2 separate regions of the Homo sapiens genome follow, and region 1 is linked to region 2. The links come from fine-mapping of genetic effects on gene expression. Tissue or cell type: whole blood. Region 2 holds a variant in brackets; the other region holds the start of a gene. All regions are shown on one strand. Distances are from middle to middle.

What was found. PIP is the estimated chance that this variant, and not a neighbour inherited with it, causes the effect.
Region 1: it holds the start of RPS26, and the variant in region 2 is fine-mapped to the expression of RPS26 in whole blood (INTERVAL, PIP above 0.99).

What each region holds. Positions count from the first base shown.
Region 1 is chr12:56,038,976-56,044,325 of GRCh38, forward strand. RPS26 (ribosomal protein S26) reads left to right here and starts at 2,943. Exons shown (of 4, transcript NM_001029.5): 1 at 2,943-3,194; 2 at 3,450-3,627; 3 at 4,388-4,518; 4 at 5,144-5,350. The coding sequence starts at 3,192. The coding sequence ends at 5,179. RefSeq lists enhancers at 2,664-3,453, 2,902-3,231, 3,372-3,631 and a silencer at 2,692-2,751.
Region 2 is chr12:55,969,525-55,975,248 of GRCh38, forward strand. CDK2 (cyclin dependent kinase 2) reads left to right here. Exons shown (of 7, transcript NM_001798.5): 5 at 1-52; 6 at 1,520-1,723; 7 at 1,997-3,265. The coding sequence ends at 2,101. It overlaps RAB5B (RAB5B, member RAS oncogene family), which reads left to right and starts at 4,554. Exons shown (of 6, transcript NM_002868.4): 1 at 4,554-4,615. RefSeq lists an enhancer at 4,298-4,447. The variant C/A (reference allele first, on the strand shown) is at 2,391.

The sequences.
Region 1 (5,350 bases), 69 kb after region 2:
GCTAGAAAAATCCAAAGTAGGAACATAAATTTGTTTCTGTCTTAAATAGTAACTATTTTCTGTTCTCTTCACTCTGAACTTTTTTATGTTCTCTTCCATCTACCTCATTGCTATTCCATATAGTAATGTCTGCCTTCTGTTTTCCACAAGATTACAGTGAAGTGAAAATTAGAGACACTCCTATCTAGAGTCTATTATTTTCCATGTCCCACTGAAACTGGCAAATTCAAAGTCAAAACAGACAGGAAAGCTGGAAGTGGTGGAGGACACCTGTCCTCCCAGCTACTTGGGAGGATCACTTGAGCCTAGGAGTTTGAGAACAGCCTCAGCAACACAGGGCAACACCATCTCTACAAGAAATTTTAAAATTAGCTAGGCATGGTGGTGCATGCCTGTAGTCCCAGCTACTCGGAAAGCTGAGACGGCAGGATCACTTGAGCCCAGGAGGTCAAGCCTGCACTGAACTGTGATCATGCCACTGCAGCCTCCAGACCCATCTTAAAAAAGAAAAAAAAGCGCTGGGCACAGTGGCTCATGCCTGTAATCCTGGCACTCTGGGAGGCTGAGGCAGGCGGATCACGAGGTCAGGAGATCAAGACCATGTGGCCAACATGGTGAAACTCCGTCTCTACTAAAATACAAAAAATTAGCCGGGCATGGTGGTACGTGCCTGTAGTGCCAGCTACTTGGGAGGCTGAGGCAGAAGAATCGCTTGAACCCAGGAGGCGGAGGTTGCAGTGAGCCAAGATCGCACCACTGCACTCCAGCCTAGGCAACAGAGCAAGACTCCATCTGAAAAAAAAAAAAAAAAGTCTGGGCACAGTGGCTCACGCCTGTAATCCTAGCACTTTGGGAGGCCGAGTCGGGTGGATATCCTGAGCTCAGGAGTTCGAGACCAGCCTGGGCAACATGGCGAAACCCTATCTCTACTAAAAATACAAAAATTAGCTGGGGCCGGGTGCAGTGGCTCACACCTATAATCCCAGCACTTTGGGAGGCTGAGGTGGATGGATCACGAGGTCAAGAGATCGGGACTGTCCCAGCCAACATGGTGAAACCCTGTCTCTACTAAAAATACAAAAATTAGCTGGGCATGGTGGCGCCCACCTGTAGTCCCACCTACTCGGGAGGCTGAGGCAGAAGAATCGCTTGAACCCGGGAGGCAGAGGTTGCTGTGAGCTGAGATGGCACCACTGCACTCCAGCCTGGGTGACAGAGCAAGAGTCTGTCTCAAAAATAAAAATAAAAAAAGAAAGGAAAAGAAAAAAGAAAGTAAGAAAACAGATTTTAGCCCCAAGAAGTGGGTTAAAGGTTAAAAGAAACCATGATGGGTTGCTGGAGGGAAGGTGAATCTGGTGTGTTCAAACTCTAGAGTGAGTCATAAATGAACAATGGTTTCCATCTGTACCATCCTGGGTCTGAATGCTAGGAGGTCCCCTTGCCACCCTAGTGTCTTCAACTTTGGAGACAACTGGGTGGTTGGCTGTGGACAGCCATTCCTGCCAGGCTGAAGCTTGCTTGCTTTTTTTTTTTTTTTTTTTGAGACAGAGTTTCGCTCTATTGCCCAGACTGTAGCACAGTAGCCCAATCTCAGCTCACTGCAACTTCTGCCTCCCGGGTGCAAGCAATTCTCCTGTCTCAGTCTCCCGAGTAGCTGGGATTACAGGTGTGCGCCACCAGGCCTAATTTTTATATTTTTAGTAGAGGTGGGGTGTCACTATGTTGACTAGGCTGGTCTTGAACTCCTGACCTCAGGTGATCCGCCTGCCTTGGCCTCCCAAAGTGTTGGGATTACAGGCGTGAGCCACTGCACCCAGCCTAAGGCTTAAGTCTTTCCGATGGCTCTTCAGAGGTAAATGGAGCTTACACATAATCTTTCAATTAGGGGTCAGATTCACTAATGAGTGGTGAAATAATTTTCGTGGTTTTTGATCAGCATTTATTAAAATAGAGAACAGAAAGATTAAGTAAAAATAAAGAATAGAACATACCAGCACACCTATGACAAGGGTAAGTATCGTTTCATAAAGCTTGTGTTTCAGTTTTGCATGTGCATGTAATCGTGTTTGTGTGTGTACTGGGTACCAATGTAAAATGTATTCGTGCTATGAATCTGGGTGAAAAACGTTTAAGTCATTAGTCCAGGCTATTCCTCCATCCATTTGTTAGGTGACATACAGCATAGTACAGCGGAGCCAGAATACCTACTGCACGTCAGTTCTTCAATCTTTTTTTTTAATTGATTTATTTATTTTTGAGACAGAGTTTCGATCTTTTTACCCAGGCTAGAGTGCAGTGGCGCGATCTCGGCTCACTGGAAACTCCGCCTCCCAGGTTCAAGATTCTCCTGTCTTAGCCTCCTGAGTACCTGGGATTACAGGCGCCCACCACCAGGCCGGGCTAAATTCTTCAATCTTTAAAGTGAGGATAATAATAGTAGCTACCTATAGGCTTGCTCAAAGTTAAATGAGTTAATATTTATAAAGACGCTTACCACAGGGCCAGGCACTGTGCCAGAGATAAAAAGATGAATGAGAAATAGCCCCAGCCTCAATGCACTTCATTGTGGGATTTTCTCCATATTGGAAGGAGGGATTCACAAAATGCTTGTTTCCTCTCAGGCCTTCCTCTTCGTAATCCTACACCTACCTAGTAGAAGGACTGTCAGAGAAATGAGCCCAGGGCGTCCCCCGGTGGCGCAGCGCCGCCTTCGGTCTAAGCACTTGGGGCAGGGGGGAAGGGGGGGAGGGGGGAGCCTCTTGGCTTCGCACTACAATTCCCACCAAGCATCTGTCCCTCTCTGGCCTCTAATAACGAGTGCGCCTTGTGGTCCAGCGTCTGGCAACTTTCACGCCTAGCGTCGCGTATACCGGAAAACTGCATCGTCCAGAATTGCTTCCGAGTCGGCGCGGCGCAAGGCTTGCTGGGAGACACATAACCTCGATTTTCTTCCGCCATCCGGCTAAATAGTCCCATGTGCACTTTGTTCCATGGATAAATAAACACTAGGAACGCATTTCCACCCTAGATTTCAGCAGAAATGCTGAATGTAAAGGAATATTTGAGTAAAGTGAGTTGCCGTTCTTGAAGCCCGTCTCCTAAGGATTCTCCCGGTGTCCGCGTAGGGATCTCATGCTATATAGGAGGGCCCTGCCAGGCACCGTCTCCTCTCTCCGGTCCGTGCCTCCAAGATGGTGAGTCTTCTTGCGTGGTGAGGGTGGGGGTTCGGGTGCAGACTCTGGGATTGTGGGGAAGTGAGAGCCTGGAGCACGGCTGAGGGGTGGACCGAGTGTACATTTCATTTGCTCTGGGGGTCGGCGGGATTTGCGGAGAAACAGGAGATCCGAGCGGCGCCTTCCTGGAGGCTGCCGGTGCGGCTTGTGGCCGGAAAGGGACTGAGGCTGGGTGAGTTGCGCCGTTTTCCTAACAGTTTTCCCATCCTGTCGCAGACAAAGAAAAGAAGGAACAATGGTCGTGCCAAAAAGGGCCGCGGCCACGTGCAGCCTATTCGCTGCACTAACTGTGCCCGATGCGTGCCCAAGGACAAGGCCATTAAGAAATTCGTCATTCGAAACATAGTGGAGGCCGCAGCAGTCAGGGACATTTCTGAAGCGAGCGTCTTCGATGGTAAGTGGGTCACCGGCGCGAACTGTGTGAGGATCCCAGTATCTTAAAGCCTTCGCCCAACTTCGCCCTTTTGGAGGCTCTGTTCTTTGGAGCCTCTCAGGCAATTTCCACGTATTTAAGGTTGTTACTGGTAGAAGAGAATTCTCTTGTTTGCCGTTTTGATTCTTTTCTGGGCAGAGGGTGACTTTGTGATAGAGTGCACAGCCTTTACTCTGAGGTAAAGGTTTGCCTGTTTCGGTTATGAGATTGCAAAAACTAGAAACTTGGTAAATTTGACAATTCTTGTGCTATTGATTATTTGAATATTTGTGAAAATATACAGGTGAGGAAGAATGTCTTCAACGTTTCGAGAATGGAGGCCGTCTAGTTTGGTGTGCAAGGATGATGTTTGGAGCAATAAGAACGTCGCTTTGTTTTTTTCCTTTTATAGAAAGAGCAAGGTTCAGGGTAGGCATTAGGGCGGGTGTAGGTGTAGAAGGAACTGGATTATTGGTTTATTGCATTTAGAATGTCAGTCTGGTCCTTGCGGTGTCAAGATGAACTCACGTGGGATGTTAATTCACTTGTAAAACTGAGGGTTATACATATGTGCTCAGGTATTGGGCTGAACAGGTGCTTTGGGGGTGCTTTTATGTGCCCGACAGGCATTTAAATAGGTTTAGTTTTAATTGACGTAAACATGTAAGGTGCTCTTCATTCATGTAACAAAAAAGCAAGGTAGGTATATAATACCAGTATAACTCTATTTTCTATTCCTTAGCCTATGTGCTTCCCAAGCTGTATGTGAAGCTACATTACTGTGTGAGTTGTGCAATTCACAGCAAAGTAGTCAGGAATCGATCTCGTGAAGCCCGCAAGGACCGAACACCCCCACCCCGATTTAGACCTGCGGTGAGTATTTTAAAAGGAGAATGGAAGCCAGGGGAGTGATGGTTAAAATTTCATCCTGGAGGGTCAGGGTGTCCTATACCTGTAACCTCAACACTTTGGGAGGCTGGGACAAGAAGATTGCTAGAAACCAGCAGTTCAAGACCCCATCTCTTCAAAAAATATTGAGAAGGAAGCCAAGCATGATAGTGTGAACCTATAGTCTGGCTGCTCGAGAGGCTGAGGCAGGAGGATCACTTGAGCCCAGGAGTTTGAGGTTGCAGTGAGCTATGATTATACCACTTGCGCTCCAGCCAGGGCAAAAGTGAGACCTTGTCTCTTAAAAAAAAAAAAAAGTTGCTTCCTCCTGTGGTGCAGGGGGTATCAAATTAAGGTCTGTGCCTCAGGTTAAGCTGTAAGGCAGGTGAGACCCACACCTGAACATGCTTAGAGACACTGCAAAGCAGTGTTAGAATCAGAATTGGTTTTTAGGATGCAGAGTAGTGTTCTCCCTCCACCTCTATCAGCTTCCCATGCATTTGTAGCCTGAATACATCAGTTTGTGAGAGGATGGTGGTCAAGTTCTTTGGGGGAAGGGAGTCTTGGATCCATGGGTTTTAATTTACTCTTTTGTTTCTTTGTCTTTCAGGGTGCTGCCCCACGTCCCCCACCAAAGCCCATGTAAGGAGCTGAGTTCTTAAAGACTGAAGACAGGCTATTCTCTGGAGAAAAATAAAATGGAAATTGTACTTAATATTGCATGTTAAGTGTATCTGTGCCAGATAAGGTGGGGATTTTGTGTGTTAGACCAAGTGTGAAGTGACACACATTATTTTCATGGGGAAGAAAGCTTATT
Region 2 (5,724 bases):
TTATTCCACAGCTGTGGACATCTGGAGCCTGGGCTGCATCTTTGCTGAGATGGTATGGAGGCTTGCCCAAGTTCCACCCAGCCCCCTCCCTCTCCTCCCCACATCCAAGAACAACAGAACTGCTTCTTGGCCCAGACCTATGGCCCTTCTATCACAGGGTTCTCTCTCTAAAGTAGCACCAAGGGGAATGGTGGGAAAGGATGCAACTGTTGCCCTGATATCAACCACAGTGTTAGGATATCCTCAAACAGCCTTAGTACCTGGTATACATCTCTTATCCCTGAAATAAGTTAAAGCATTTCTGCAGCTGTTTTAGCTGTAGTCTGCATATATTTGGGAGAATGATTCCATTTAGTGCCTCTTTTATTTCAGGCCTTCATTTCAAGGCTTGTAGACCTTGTTGTATGGTGCCAGCAATGTAGTGAAGACAACTGTGGTCACTTTACCCACACCTTTCATTTAAACTGCAGATTTAGGCAGGGTGCAGTGGCTCACACCTATAATACCAGCACTTTGGGAGGCTGAGGTAGGTGGATCACCTGAGGTCAGGAGTTTGAGACCAGCCTGGCCAACATGTTAAAACCCTGTCTCTACTAAAAATACAAAAATTAGCCAGGTGTGGCTACTTGGGATTACACACCTGTAATCCCAGCTACTTGGGAGGCCAAGGCAGGAGAATCGGTTGAACCCGGGAGATGGAGGTTGCAGTGACCAAGATTGCACCACTGCACTCCAGCCTGGGCGACAGAATGAGATTCCATCTCAAAAAAAAAAAAAAAAAAAAAAAAAAAAAGATTTAGATCATGTTCCCCTTCAACCTCTGGCTTTTCAGACTGAAGGATCCTTGAAGCCTGGCTTTATGTAGAAGCTCCCATCTCCTTTAATATAACAGTACAGTGGTGCAGTAGGCTGTCTTCAAATCAGCAATATGTTTTATTGTCTTTTATCTTGGTTGTAACCAAGAGCTTAAAGACCATTAGCCTATACATATGTAATGTGCATTTATCCCCCCAGTGCATTACCTTACAATTGTCCGTATTCCTCTCTCAATTCATCAAAAAATATTTGTTAAGCACCTAGTGGGTACCCAGCACCATGCTAGGTGCTGTGGGGAACACAGAAGAAATGGAAGACAGAGTCTCTGCCCGCTGTGCTCGTATCTAGAAGTGGCTGCATCACAAGGTTGGGGGATGACCGCAGTGTCTACCCCCTACCCCGTGAGTGGCTTGGGATACCTTTGCTACATGTCAGTGGCACCCCAGACATTCACCCCCTCCCAGACCCACCCAGCCTTGGGGATCTGCAAAGCCATGGTTGGGGGAAGGAAGGAGGGGGCGAGGAGACAGATGAAGGAACTTCATTGTCTCAGGTTCTGTGTGACTGACCCCATGAAAGGCCCTGGGGAGGGAGTCATGGGGCCCTGCTGACCTTTTACTGTCTGTGGGAACTCCTTTGTATAGAGGAGAGTTTTGACTGACGTCAACGTGGGTCTTGGTATTTCCTCTTTCCCCATTTTCAGGTGACTCGCCGGGCCCTATTCCCTGGAGATTCTGAGATTGACCAGCTCTTCCGGATCTTTCGGACTCTGGGGACCCCAGATGAGGTGGTGTGGCCAGGAGTTACTTCTATGCCTGATTACAAGCCAAGTTTCCCCAAGTGGGCCCGGCAAGATTTTAGTAAAGTTGTACCTCCCCTGGATGAAGATGGACGGAGCTTGTTATCGGTGAGAGTGGGCACCTGTTTTCCCTCATTCATTTCTCCCAGGGAAGGGCTTTTCCAGGATGAAGGAAGGATGAGACCCTGAAATCTGGGCCTCAGTGTTTCATTTCCCTGGTTCCTGCTCTCCCTGTTGGCACACTGATTCAGCTATGGGAGGATGGAAGTGAGAATTCTGCCTTGGGTAGAAGGAGTTCTGGTTTCCTGATTTCTGGGAACACCTGCTGCCCATTTAGTCCACTATCACATCATTGAAGTCAACATGCATCTCTCCCTCTAGCAAATGCTGCACTACGACCCTAACAAGCGGATTTCGGCCAAGGCAGCCCTGGCTCACCCTTTCTTCCAGGATGTGACCAAGCCAGTACCCCATCTTCGACTCTGATAGCCTTCTTGAAGCCCCCAGCCCTAATCTCACCCTCTCCTCCAGTGTGGGCTTGACCAGGCTTGGCCTTGGGCTATTTGGACTCAGGTGGGCCCTCTGAACTTGCCTTAAACACTCACCTTCTAGTCTTGGCCAGCCAACTCTGGGAATACAGGGGTGAAAGGGGGGAACCAGTGAAAATGAAAGGAAGTTTCAGTATTAGATGCACTTAAGTTAGCCTCCACCACCCTTTCCCCCTTCTCTTAGTTATTGCTGAAGAGGGTTGGTATAAAAATAATTTTAAAAAAGC[C/A]TTCCTACACGTTAGATTTGCCGTACCAATCTCTGAATGCCCCATAATTATTATTTCCAGTGTTTGGGATGACCAGGATCCCAAGCCTCCTGCTGCCACAATGTTTATAAAGGCCAAATGATAGCGGGGGCTAAGTTGGTGCTTTTGAGAACCAAGTAAAACAAAACCACTGGGAGGAGTCTATTTTAAAGAATTCGGTTGAAAAAATAGATCCAATCAGTTTATACCCTAGTTAGTGTTTTGCCTCACCTAATAGGCTGGGAGACTGAAGACTCAGCCCGGGTGGGGCTGCAGAAAAATGATTGGCCCCAGTCCCCTTGTTTGTCCCTTCTACAGGCATGAGGAATCTGGGAGGCCCTGAGACAGGGATTGTGCTTCATTCCAATCTATTGCTTCACCATGGCCTTATGAGGCAGGTGAGAGATGTTTGAATTTTTCTCTTCCTTTTAGTATTCTTAGTTGTTCAGTTGCCAAGGATCCCTGATCCCATTTTCCTCTGACGTCCACCTCCTACCCCATAGGAGTTAGAAGTTAGGGTTTAGGCATCATTTTGAGAATGCTGACACTTTTTCAGGGCTGTGATTGAGTGAGGGCATGGGTAAAAATATTTCTTTAAAAGAAGGATGAACAATTATATTTATATTTCAGGTTATATCCAATAGTAGAGTTGGCTTTTTTTTTTTTTTTTTGGTCATAGTGGGTGGATTTGTTGCCATGTGCACCTTGGGGTTTTGTAATGACAGTGCTAAAAAAAAAAAGCATTTTTTTTTTATGATTTGTCTCTGTCACCCTTGTCCTTGAGTGCTCTTGCTATTAACGTTATTTGTAATTTAGTTTGTAGCTCATTAAAAAAATGTGCCTAGTTTTATAGTTCATCTCTTTCCTCCTCTTATTTACTGAAAGAATGGTGGGAGACAGAATATGAATGTGTGTATGTGATCATTGATTTCAGACCCCTTTTCCTAATCTCTCTGTGCATGGCTGCCCACCCCACCCCATTTTGGCTAGTGCTGACGGTGAACAAAGTGGTTATTATCATCCCTATTTATGGCTGGGGAAACTGAAGCCTATATACTTCCTACTTCACTTTCTCCACACACCAGCAAACCTCCTTTCCCCCAGCCAACATACCACACACACACCACACCACACACACATCACATACACACACCACACACACATCATATACACACATATACCACACACACCACGTATACATATACCAAATACACACACACCACATACACACCATATATGCACACACACCCCATACATACACACACCCATGCACATACATAGCGGCAGGAAGAGGGCTCCCGGGGAATTTGCCTTTCGACACTGCATTTCCCAGTAAGCCCGCCGTTTTTCCTTTCTGTTTCATATCACAGACAGAAAAGTTTTCCAAAGATTCTTTTATTTACATTTACATACGATTCTGAAAAAGCGTCTCCAAGCTACCACTTCTTGTAGTTGCCATTGTCTCATTCCACCAAAAAACATCTCAGACCGCCCGCGGCCACCCCAAATACGCCTGTCCACTGAAGCCTCACTAAAAGGAGGAAGCGCTGATGTCAGGGTTACTTAAATTCCCAGGCTCCGGATCCCTAGAAGAGGTATTTCCCTTTACGCCCGCGAATTTGTCATAGAAGGCAGGGCACTAGAGCCAGCCCCAGCCAAGTCCAGGGGGAGGGGCGAAGGTCAGTAGCGGCCTTCCTAAGGCTTCCTTCAACCCCTCCTTGCCTGCCAGTCAAGTACCGTATTTTCGCAGTACTGGTTAAAGTTTCACTTTGACCCGCCTCCATCACTCACCTGATTAGATGTTTATGAGTCAAAAGGCGGGGTCATGGGGTGTCGAGATTTTATTGGTGGATACATACGCCTGTCGGCAGTGTACCGCCCCCTGTCTTCAGGAGCTTGCTCTTTAATGGCTCCTTACCTCGTCCATCTTCGAGGTTTCTCCCTCGCTATTGGCTTGTGGCCCCGCCTGTCGCGTCCCTTGCTCGTACTTGTTGGTGACAGCGCCCAAAGAGACTCGCCTTTCTCCAGAGGATTGGTGGATGAGTGCACATATAGCCCACCCTCGAAGGTAGGCGGGTAATCGAGCTATTGGCTGGAGCCCCGCCCCAGGGCGAGGAGGAGAAGGAGGGGCAGGAGGGTTTGGTTGAGCTGCAGCTGTTTGTCTGTTCGACACAGGCTTGGGGCCGACGGGGGAGACGGAGCCCCAGGTACCGAGCTGATGGAGCCCAAAGGGCAGGGGCGGAAGCGCCCGGGAGATGAGAGCAGCCTGGCCTGAGAGCGGAGGCGGGTCTGGTCCTAAGCGAGGGGTTAGAGTGGCCCACCGGAGAGGGGAGAAGGGGGCCGGGCCCCGGCAGGCCTAATGGGGGTCGCTGAGGAGGGGACTGGGCGGCCTGGGACCCCGAAGTTGGTGAGTCGGGAAGGCGGCTGGGCTGTGGCGGCGGCCAGGCCGAGGGCCGGGGGCTGGAGGCCTGGAGCTTGAGTGAGGGCAGGGGCAGGCCTCATTAAGCAGCGCTGAAGAGGGAGGAGCTGGGGAAAGGAACAGGGCAGCGGGTGAGGTAAGCCCATTTGCCGGGAGGTGAGGAGGGTCAGACCTGTCGCCCGAGCCCCGGGGGTGACTGGGGCTGGGTCCCTGCAGAGAGGTTCATTGGAAGGGCCTGAGAAGGGTTCTTAGTTGGGTAAGAAGCGTTCTTTTCAGGGAAAGTGCCTATTGTAAAAAGAACTGAGGGTGCTATGGTGTTGAGCTGAGAGAGATTTGGGTTCAGTGAGGGAGAACTGGGGAAAATGAAGAAGGCTGTATTAATCTAGAAGACTAAGGTAGTTGAAGTAATGGAAGCAGGGCCTGGTATCAGTTATGGGAACTTCTGGGAATGCTGAAGGGTGGGCTGGGGGCTCTGGGTCTTGGGAGTACACACTCTTTTGTTCCCTTTAGTGTTTAGATGTGGTAATTTGAAGCTTTTTAAAACTCCCAGGGTAGGGATGAAGATCAAAGTAATTTTTTTTTTTCCATGACTGTTGGCTGCTCCAAACTCAGCCCCTACACTTTCTGTTGGCCTCATAGCTGGTCTATACTGCAGTCTGTTTCTTAACTTACTGTTTCATGTCCTATGAAAGAGCTAAGAAGTTGGATTGGGGGCATGTTTTGTCCACTTCTTTCCCACTTAATAATGTGGTCTATAGCAAATACCATGTCTCCTAGAACTGAGAATCTATTTCATATCTATTTCATTATCTACATGGGAAAGGGGCTTAGAGATCCTCAGCCATCAGGAGATCTTCTGATCATAGTTGGTGAAACTTTTGTGGGACTTAGACTTGA